Regions from separate parts of the Homo sapiens genome. Here region 2 is reported to be linked to region 1. Evidence: microRNA targets listed by miRTarBase, many of them from high-throughput screens and not tested one by one. Region 1 holds a microRNA gene; the other region holds the end of a gene's coding sequence.

Region 1 (4,388 bases):
ATTGCCATTGGTCACCTAGCTTTCAGAATTTATTTTCCAAAGCTAAGTCTGCCATGACAGGTGCTAAGGTATCCCTTTGAAATTCTTGGCTTTTCTAGCTTGGGGTAGTTAGACAGCCATCATGTTTCAATTCCTAGATTGCTTTTCAGGAAGTTTCTAACAGATCTCAGTTTGCATTTCTAGGTGGTCATTTTACAAGTTCAAACTCATATTTTTCATTGCTATTCCTTATACAGAGCTAAAGTGCTATGGGGGCTTTCTAGAAAAGTGACCTTTTAAAATGGAGTCTGGATCTCATTCTTAGCAGAAGCATCAAGGGAACACCTTCATAGCATTGCAAGGTCAGTGACTTAGGTCAGCATCAAACTCCCCACTTCCCATGCCCAGGCCTAACTTGGACTCACTCCCACCTATGGGACCCTTGCTCTTTTTCAGGAACTGGAAAGGAGGTACCCCTCAGATACAGGGCCACAGGCAGATAGATTTAACCTCTAGATTCATCCTATGCCTCATGAGGCTGAGGCAGGTCCCTCCACTGGGCCTCAGTTTTCCCTAAATGTGTAACAGAGTGGGGTTTGGGCCACATGATCTCTAGGTCCTCTTCTGGCTCTGTGCTTCTATGACTTGGATTAAGAGAGGCAGATGAACACCTCAATAGAGGAAGACAGCCCAATTTTTAAAAATCAGATTGACTTTTGCCATTCAGGTCCATTACCCCCTCCCTTTCCTATAGCTGCCAGCTGTTCAAACCCTCTAAACCCTAACCTCTTTAGGCAAACCAAATCTTGCCTAGATGGCTGCAGGGTCCTCTGAGACACCTAAACCCTGCGAACCTTGACCAACCCTACCCCACCCTGCCACCTAATTGAAAGAGCCTCAGGAGCTCCACTGCCTTCAGAACCTAATTTCTCAGGACAAAGACGTGCCCTTGAGGATGTGGCCTCTCCTCACCTTGTTGGGTGCACAGATACCAGCCTCCAAATATTCGCAATTCTCTTTTTGATCCCTCTCTCTCTCTCTCTCTCTCTCTCTCTCTCTCTCTATTGTCCTAACCCATGTTCCAGGTAAGAAAAAATTCTTCTCTATCCTAATGAGGGTGTTGCAGACACTCCACCTGTGACCCAGCCCCATCCCACAACTTGTCCTCCTATCTCCTCAGCTTGCTTCCCTACCAAGGCTCCAAGCTAGACCCAGTTCATGAAGGCAGAGAGGGTAGGTATCAGGCCGAAGTTGGTGGGTTCTTGCTCAAGGTTGGTATTTCAGAACTAAAATCTGCAAGTACATTTTTCCTTTTCTTTTTCTTCTTCAGACCCCTGATCAGGAGGTGAGATTCCTTACACTTGGCCATACAACAGGATGAAATCCTGCCATTTATGGTAACATAGATGATCCTGGAGGTCATTATGCTAAGTGATATAAGCAAGGCACAGAAAGACAAATACCACATGATCTCATTCCTATGTGGAATCTAAAAAACTTGACTTCATAGAAATGGGGAGTAGAATGATGGTTACCAGAGTAACCCTTAGGGGAAGTGGGAGAGAGGTATACGAAGAGAGATTGATCAACAAAGTATAAAGTTACAGTTAGGAAAAATAAGTTCTGGTGTTCTATTACACAGTATGGTGACTATAGCTAACAATAATGCATTGTATATTTCACGATAACTAGAAGAGAGGATTTTGAATATTCTCATCACAAATAAATTATAAATATTTACAGTGATGGATATGCTAATTACCCAATTTGATCATTATACTATGTATACATGCATTGAAACATCACACTGTACCCTATAAGTATGTACAATTATTATATGTCAATCATAAATAAAACTTTTTAAAAAGAAGAAGTTAAGATTCCTAGAGGAAACTTCACCTCACCCTTTCTACCCCTACCCAAGCCAGTAGCCAGAGCACCTCACAACCAAGTTCCCAAAACCCATCTCCAGAATGACACGTGGGGCCTTATCCTCTTCAGGAAGAACAAAATGAGCCCAGGCTTCCCCCTTAGGACCGCTATAATGTGTTCAAATGTTTTCCGTCGAAGAAACTAAGCTGCACAGAGGTCGAGACTTGCCAAGGTTATACTGCCAGTTAGCAGCCAAGACCAGACTTCAAACCCAAATCATCTGACTGTGAGGGTTCTTTCTTGGCATCCAACCCAGATTAGAGGAAGAGCTTATTTCTCTGGTTGCTGTGGGGGTGTACCCCACACTCAGGCTCCCGCCGGGATTGCCACAACTGTCCCTGCCGAGTCTGGCTGCCTCCAGGGATCTAAAACCAGGGACTTTGTTACCTTTTGTCCCTTGCTGTCCTCATAAGGTACTGATTGACTGATGGAGGCATGACTGGAAGACTGGCAGAAGCAGAAAGCAAAACTATGTCGCCCCCTGCCATGCGCCTGTACCTCTGTCTAGACTTCACAGAGGAAGGAGGAAGTCATCAACCCAGGCTACTCACCACTGCCTCTCACCCTTCCTCCCTCACGTATATTCCATTCAAAGACTGTGGATTTCCCCTAGGTCGACTTGAGAATTTTCTAGAGTTCCCAGTAAGCTGCTGAGGATGAATTGGGGGTTGGTGGAAAGGTCAGAGACAGACCTGAACAGCTCTCTTCCTAAGAGGCACAGGCAATCACTGGGCCTCGCCCGCCCCAGGTTGCCTGTTCTCTTCACCACCAATAAACTAGAGGGACCACGATCTCACAGAGTCTGTGAATAAAGTCATTCGGCAAAGGTCTGGTGGGCAGTCATCCTATACCAAGTACCAAGAAGATGCAGAGAAGTCTAATGCCTCCTGAACCCGCCCATCTCCTGTTTTGGCTATTGTCTGTTCACCCCAGTGCATGGGTATTGACAATCATTTCTTAAAGGAGTCTTCCTTCATCCAGTACTGTCCATGCTTTACAATATAAAACCCAAATCACCCCTCACACCTGATCCATCTTCACACAAGTCCAAGGTCCCCAGGCACTTGAGATCACGCCACACGCCTGGAGTGACTTCTCTTGAGCAGGTTTGGAGTATGCTCTTACTGCTAACTAGCTTTGTGATTTGGGGCAAGTCTTTGACCTCATGGGCCCAAGGTTTGCTTATCTGAGGCTCCTAGAAAAGAAAGTCCAAACTCCTCAGCATGGCTGGCCAGGCCTTCCCCAAGCCAGCACCACCATCCGCTCCAGCCTGTTCTCTACTCAAAGGCCACAGTTTTTGCCTGTTTGTGTCTGACAGCACTCATTTCACTCCGAGTTACATCCAAGGGATCCGTTGCTAGGCCATCTCCCAGCTTATGTGTAAGCTCCTTGCGGGCAGAGCTCCTCTGAAGCACCTATAGAGCCCTGCACTGGGCGTGAGCAGGGCTCACTCAGCAGGGCCCACTCAGCAAGTGCTAGGTCGTCAACGACCTGTGGAATAAATAGCCAGCCCTCCCAAGCAGCTGCCTGCCTCCCTCCTCAAAAAAGTCTGTTGACTCCACAGATCCCAGAATCAGGCTTCTCAAATGTGCTGCATGGATGACCGGCAGCTGAAATACCTAGTGAGCTTGTTAAAGATTCAGGTTCCTCAGCTCCACCCCACACCTATGAAATAAGAATCTCTGGGGTGTGCTGACTCCAAGAGCCTCCCCAGGTCTGGCCCAGAGCTCCAGTGGACTCTAAAGCTAGGCCCTTCTGCAGGAAGGGGATAGACAATGTCCCATAAGCAGCCCAGGGTATAGATGGCAGGGGATTGAGGCAGGGGACAGGACTGAGATTCTGCATCTGCTAACCATCATTGCAAGTCCCTGATACTTGCCTTTCTCTAACCAAGTTATGACAGCAAAGGCACCACCTTCCTGCCCATCACCAGCAGCTAGCAGTTCTCTTATTGCTGCCTTCCTTCCCCGTCCCATCAACCCAACAGGGCTGGAACTGACTCTCATCTTCAGTCAGCCTCTCCCTCCACCTAAGGCCTCATAGCTCTTCTTCCACTGAATTTAAACAGCTTCTTCTTCCCCAAGGCAAAGAAAAAAAGGGATTCTTTTCCTCCTACTCTTTCCACTGCCCACCAGCCTGCTAGGGTGTTTTCTAAAACCAATGTGAGAAGCGTTTTCAGTCACACACTTTATATCCCACCTAACTAAACCTCTGCTGGCTGTCCAGACAGACTTTCCTCCCATCCCCTGGGGCTTCAGACCCACAGGGCCCTCACAGACCTCTCAAGTCAAGTGTCAGTGGTGTGCTGGGCACCATCACAGGACTGGAAATACAAGTGCCCAGGTGAGGACCAGCTCCAGGTGGACCACGTGGCTCTGGGGAACTCTTGCGCCCCTCTGTTGGGAATAACGTTCAAAATCCTAAGGAAATTGAACACTCAAACAAAGGATGCTTAGCAAAGCAATTTTGCTTCTGTG
Region 2 (4,388 bases), not on the chromosome of region 1:
ACAGAGTTTCACTATGTTGCCCAGGTTGGTCTCGAACTCCTGGCCTCAAGTGATCCGTTCGCCATGACCTCCCAAAGTGCTGGGATTACAGGCATGAGCCCGTCCCGTCCCTGGCTGTCTCTCCATCTTTCCATCTTTTTTTTTTTTTTTTTTTTTTTTGGAGATGGAGTCTCACTCTGTCACCCAGGCTGGAGTGCAGTGGCACGATCTTGGCTCACTGCAAGCTCCGCCTCCTGGGTTCACATCATTCTCCTGTCTCAGCCTCCCAAATAGCTGGGACTACAGGCACTTGCCACCACGCCTGGCTGATTTTTTGTATTTTTAGTAGAGACGGGGTTTCACCGTGTTAGCCAGGGTGGTCTCGATCTCCTGACCTCGTGATCCGCCCACCTTGGCCTCTGGGCGAGGATTACAGGCGTGATCCACCTCACCTGGCCTCTCCATCTTTTTAACTGCAGTGTCAGCGGTGTTCCTTGTCTTCTCTGCAGATGCAGGCAGCAGAATATAGTGGTTATAGGAACACAGGTGGAAACCCTGTCCAAAGCAAGGGCTATCGGGTATCACCTCTGACCATCCTTCCCATTCATCCTCCAGGTCAAGTCTGGCACCATCTTTGACAACTTCCTCATCACCAACGATGAGGCATACGCTGAGGAGTTTGGCAACGAGACGTGGGGCGTAACAAAGGTGAGGCCTGGTCCTGGTCCTGATGTCGGGGGCGGGCAGGGCTGGCAGGGGGCAAGGCCCTGAGGTGTGTGCTCTGCCTGCAGGCAGCAGAGAAACAAATGAAGGACAAACAGGACGAGGAGCAGAGGCTTAAGGAGGAGGAAGAAGACAAGAAACGCAAAGAGGAGGAGGAGGCAGAGGACAAGGAGGATGATGAGGACAAAGATGAGGATGAGGAGGATGAGGAGGACAAGGAGGAAGATGAGGAGGAAGATGTCCCCGGCCAGGCCAAGGACGAGCTGTAGAGAGGCCTGCCTCCAGGGCTGGACTGAGGCCTGAGCGCTCCTGCCGCAGAGCTGGCCGCGCCAAATAATGTCTCTGTGAGACTCGAGAACTTTCATTTTTTTCCAGGCTGGTTCGGATTTGGGGTGGATTTTGGTTTTGTTCCCCTCCTCCACTCTCCCCCACCCCCTCCCCGCCCTTTTTTTTTTTTTTTTTTAAACTGGTATTTTATCTTTGATTCTCCTTCAGCCCTCACCCCTGGTTCTCATCTTTCTTGATCAACATCTTTTCTTGCCTCTGTCCCCTTCTCTCATCTCTTAGCTCCCCTCCAACCTGGGGGGCAGTGGTGTGGAGAAGCCACAGGCCTGAGATTTCATCTGCTCTCCTTCCTGGAGCCCAGAGGAGGGCAGCAGAAGGGGGTGGTGTCTCCAACCCCCCAGCACTGAGGAAGAACGGGGCTCTTCTCATTTCACCCCTCCCTTTCTCCCCTGCCCCCAGGACTGGGCCACTTCTGGGTGGGGCAGTGGGTCCCAGATTGGCTCACACTGAGAATGTAAGAACTACAAACAAAATTTCTATTAAATTAAATTTTGTGTCTCCCTCCTGTGTCTCCTTCTGGGGAAAGACAGACTTAAGGAAACCCAGCAGTGGTCTTTTTGGGGGGGGGGGGGGTTTCCAGTATATCTCCTTTTTCAGCTATTGCTAGAGAGGTTGCTGAGTGTTCCACAAGATTCCAGGGACCCTTATTTACCCCATAACCCTCAAAACCAACGGGGGAATGGCTGTTGCTGCTGTAAATACTCCACATACTAACTTACTGAATCCTTGAACCTAACTGGTAAGTTTTGGTTCTGCTTATTTATTTATTTTTAAGATAGACTCTCGCTCTGTTGTCCAGGCTGGCGTACAGTGGCTCAATCTGGTTCACCCTGCCCCTTAAACTGGCCTTTTTCATGCTTCTATTCCTTTGGGGTCCTGTGGCTCAGCCCAACCCCTCTGGGATGCCTCCAGGACTGGTAGATCCAAGGGAGAATTCTGTATTTAATGTAGTGAGGCTTTGAAAGTTAACATCTTTAAATACTTCTGGGGTCAGATTAGGTATAGTACAACAAAGTACTCCTGCCCGGAGACCCAAGAATGAAAATTGTAGGTTCATTCCAAAACTCCAGATCCCTAAAGAATGAATGAGGCTACAAAATGGCACCTTGCCCCCGCTTCCAACTTAAGGTTTTTTTTCTGTGCTTGGTGGCCTTTCAGGTATTTCTAGTTTTGAGTAACTTTCACTTTGACTGCTCTACAAGGGTTCCTGCCAGGATACCCAGACCAGAATAAAACTCATTTGGGGGCCGGGTACGGTGGTTCACGCCTGTAATCCCAGCACTTTGGGAGGCCGAGGCGGGTGGATCACCTGAGGTCAGGAGTTTTGAGACCAGCCTGGCCAACACGGTGAAACCCAATACAAAAAATTATCCGGGCGTGGTGGGGGGTGCCTGTAATCCCAGTTACTCGGGAGGCTGAGGCAGGAGAATTGCATGAACCCGGAAGGCGGAAGCTGCAGTGAGCCGAGATCGCGCCACTGCACTCCAGCCTGGGTGACAGAGACTGTTTGAAAGAAAAAATTCTCATTTGGAAGAGGCAAAATGAGGTTTTTACAGAAGAAATACAAATGTCTGTAACCAGTACAGGTACATAAAAACTTTGTTAAAAATTCATTTGAGCGTGAGAGTGGGGACACCAGAGTCACTTTGCAGCCCCGTGACGTCACCGATAACGGGCATGGCGTCACTCAGGAGACCACGTGTGCGGGCCGAGCAAGAAGCCCCGCCCACAGCGCGGAGTTTAGTCTGCGCGTGCCTCGCTCGAGAACGCGCTCGTGCGCATGCCCACAAAGGCCAAGGAGGGAGTGCGCAGGTCACGTGCGCCGGTGGTCAGCGCGCGCATTGCCTGCCCCGGAAGTGGTCGGCGCGCGGCGCGGCGCGCCTGGGCGCTAAGATGGCGGCGGCGTGAGTTGCATGTTGTGTGAGGATCCCGGGGCCGCCGCGTCGCTCGGGCCCCGCCATGGCCGTCACCATCACGCTCAAAACGCTGCAGCAGCAGACCTTCAAGATCCGCATGGAGCCTGACGAGACGGTGCGGGCCGGGCCGGAGCCCGGGGGCGGGAGCGACGGGTTTCGGGGGTGGGGTGGGGGCGGGGAGGCTAGAATCCCAACGGGAGGGGCAGGGAGGACGGCGCGGGTCGGCCCTGCCCAGACCCCCGACCTGCCCGACTTTCCTGGACCCCCCGATGGTCTTTGGCCCAGCCCCCAGCCGATCGGGCGGCGCTCCTGCGCCGGTCTCCGGGCGAGGCCCCACCCCCGGGGCGCTGGCCAGGCCCCGGCTCCAATGTCAGCGCTCTCGCGGGGCGCGGGAGTCACAAGCTCGGATTCCTGGGCAGGCCAAGCTCTCCAAGACTGGGCTCCACGTTCCCAGCTTTGCAGGCGTCTCCTTGGGACACTGGTGGTCGAATCTAGGAGTAATGACCAGGAGATACTGAGTAGTGACGACAACAACGATGTTAATGATAATAAACGGGTCTCAGTCTTTATAATTTTGGTGGTCCGTGTTTGTTGGCCGTTTACTTTTTATCAGTCACCGAGTGTTGTAGTGTTGTTTTACCGCTCTGCAAAACGGGCTTGTCATTGGGGACCTCTGATCATTTTACAGATGTGGAAACCTAGGGATTGAGGAACTTTGCCACAGTCACACACAAGTAATGGCAGAGCTGGGATTCAAATTCGGTTCTGCCTCGTGTGAGCGTCCACGATATAAATATTATGCTGCCTTTTTAGTCAAAAGTAGAATTAGGACCTAATTCAAACATACTGAATGTCTATTGGGTACTTGGCGCTTTTTGCATAGTGAGGGAGACATTGAAGTCCACTTTTTGTAGAAAAGGAAACACACATTTTTTGATCCGCTCAAGTGTTTGGCTTTGGGCAAGTTAACCTGCCTACCTGTCTGTGCCTCCGTTTTCTCAAATATCAAATGAACCGGTCGCCTGCTGGCTTCCGCCTGTAATCCCAGCACTTAGGGAGGCAGAGGGAAGAGGAGCCCTTGAGCCTAGGAATTCGAGATCATCCTGGCAACACAGTGAGACCCCGTTCTCTACAAAAAAAAGAAACAAAAATCAATAAATAAAATGAGACCAATTAAACGTATTTCATAGGAAACTTAAAAGGTATGACACATATACATTTACAGTAGCACTATTGGCCAGGCACGGTGGCTCATGCCTCTAATCCTGATGATTTGGGAGGCAGAGGCAGGAGGATTGCTTGAGGCCAGGAGTTTGAGACCAGCCAGTCTAACATAGGGAGACTCTTATCTACAAAAAAAAATTATTTTTAATTAGTCTGGAGTGGTGGTGTGTACCTTTAGTCCTAGCTACTCCCAAGGCTGGA

Evidence for each region. The annotated mature microRNA hsa-miR-7154-3p reads AGGAGGACAAGUUGUGGGAU and lies in region 1 at 1,130-1,149, opposite strand. An mRNA with a match to its seed (bases 2 to 7 or 8) in the 3' UTR can be bound and repressed. Matches are read on the target gene's strand: a 7mer-m8 pairs with bases 2 to 8, a 7mer-A1 pairs with bases 2 to 7 and ends in A, and an 8mer does both.
Region 2: the mRNA of CALR is a reported target of hsa-miR-7154-3p. Seed matches in the 3' UTR shown: 7mer-A1 at 1,117-1,123.

The regions. Positions count from the first base shown.
Region 1 is chr11:45,690,575-45,694,962 of GRCh38, forward strand. It overlaps MIR7154 (microRNA 7154), which reads right to left and starts at 1,202; the gene lies at 1,130-1,202.
Region 2 is chr19:12,942,943-12,947,330 of GRCh38, forward strand. It overlaps CALR (calreticulin), which reads left to right. Exons shown (of 9, transcript NM_004343.4): 8 at 595-687; 9 at 771-1,547. The coding sequence ends at 971. RAD23A (RAD23 nucleotide excision repair protein A) reads left to right here and starts at 2,920. Exons shown (of 9, transcript NM_005053.4): 1 at 2,920-3,078. The coding sequence starts at 3,007. RefSeq lists enhancers at 2,698-3,390, 2,802-3,021, 4,337-4,388 and silencers at 3,082-3,161, 3,172-3,361, 3,382-3,441, 3,413-3,707.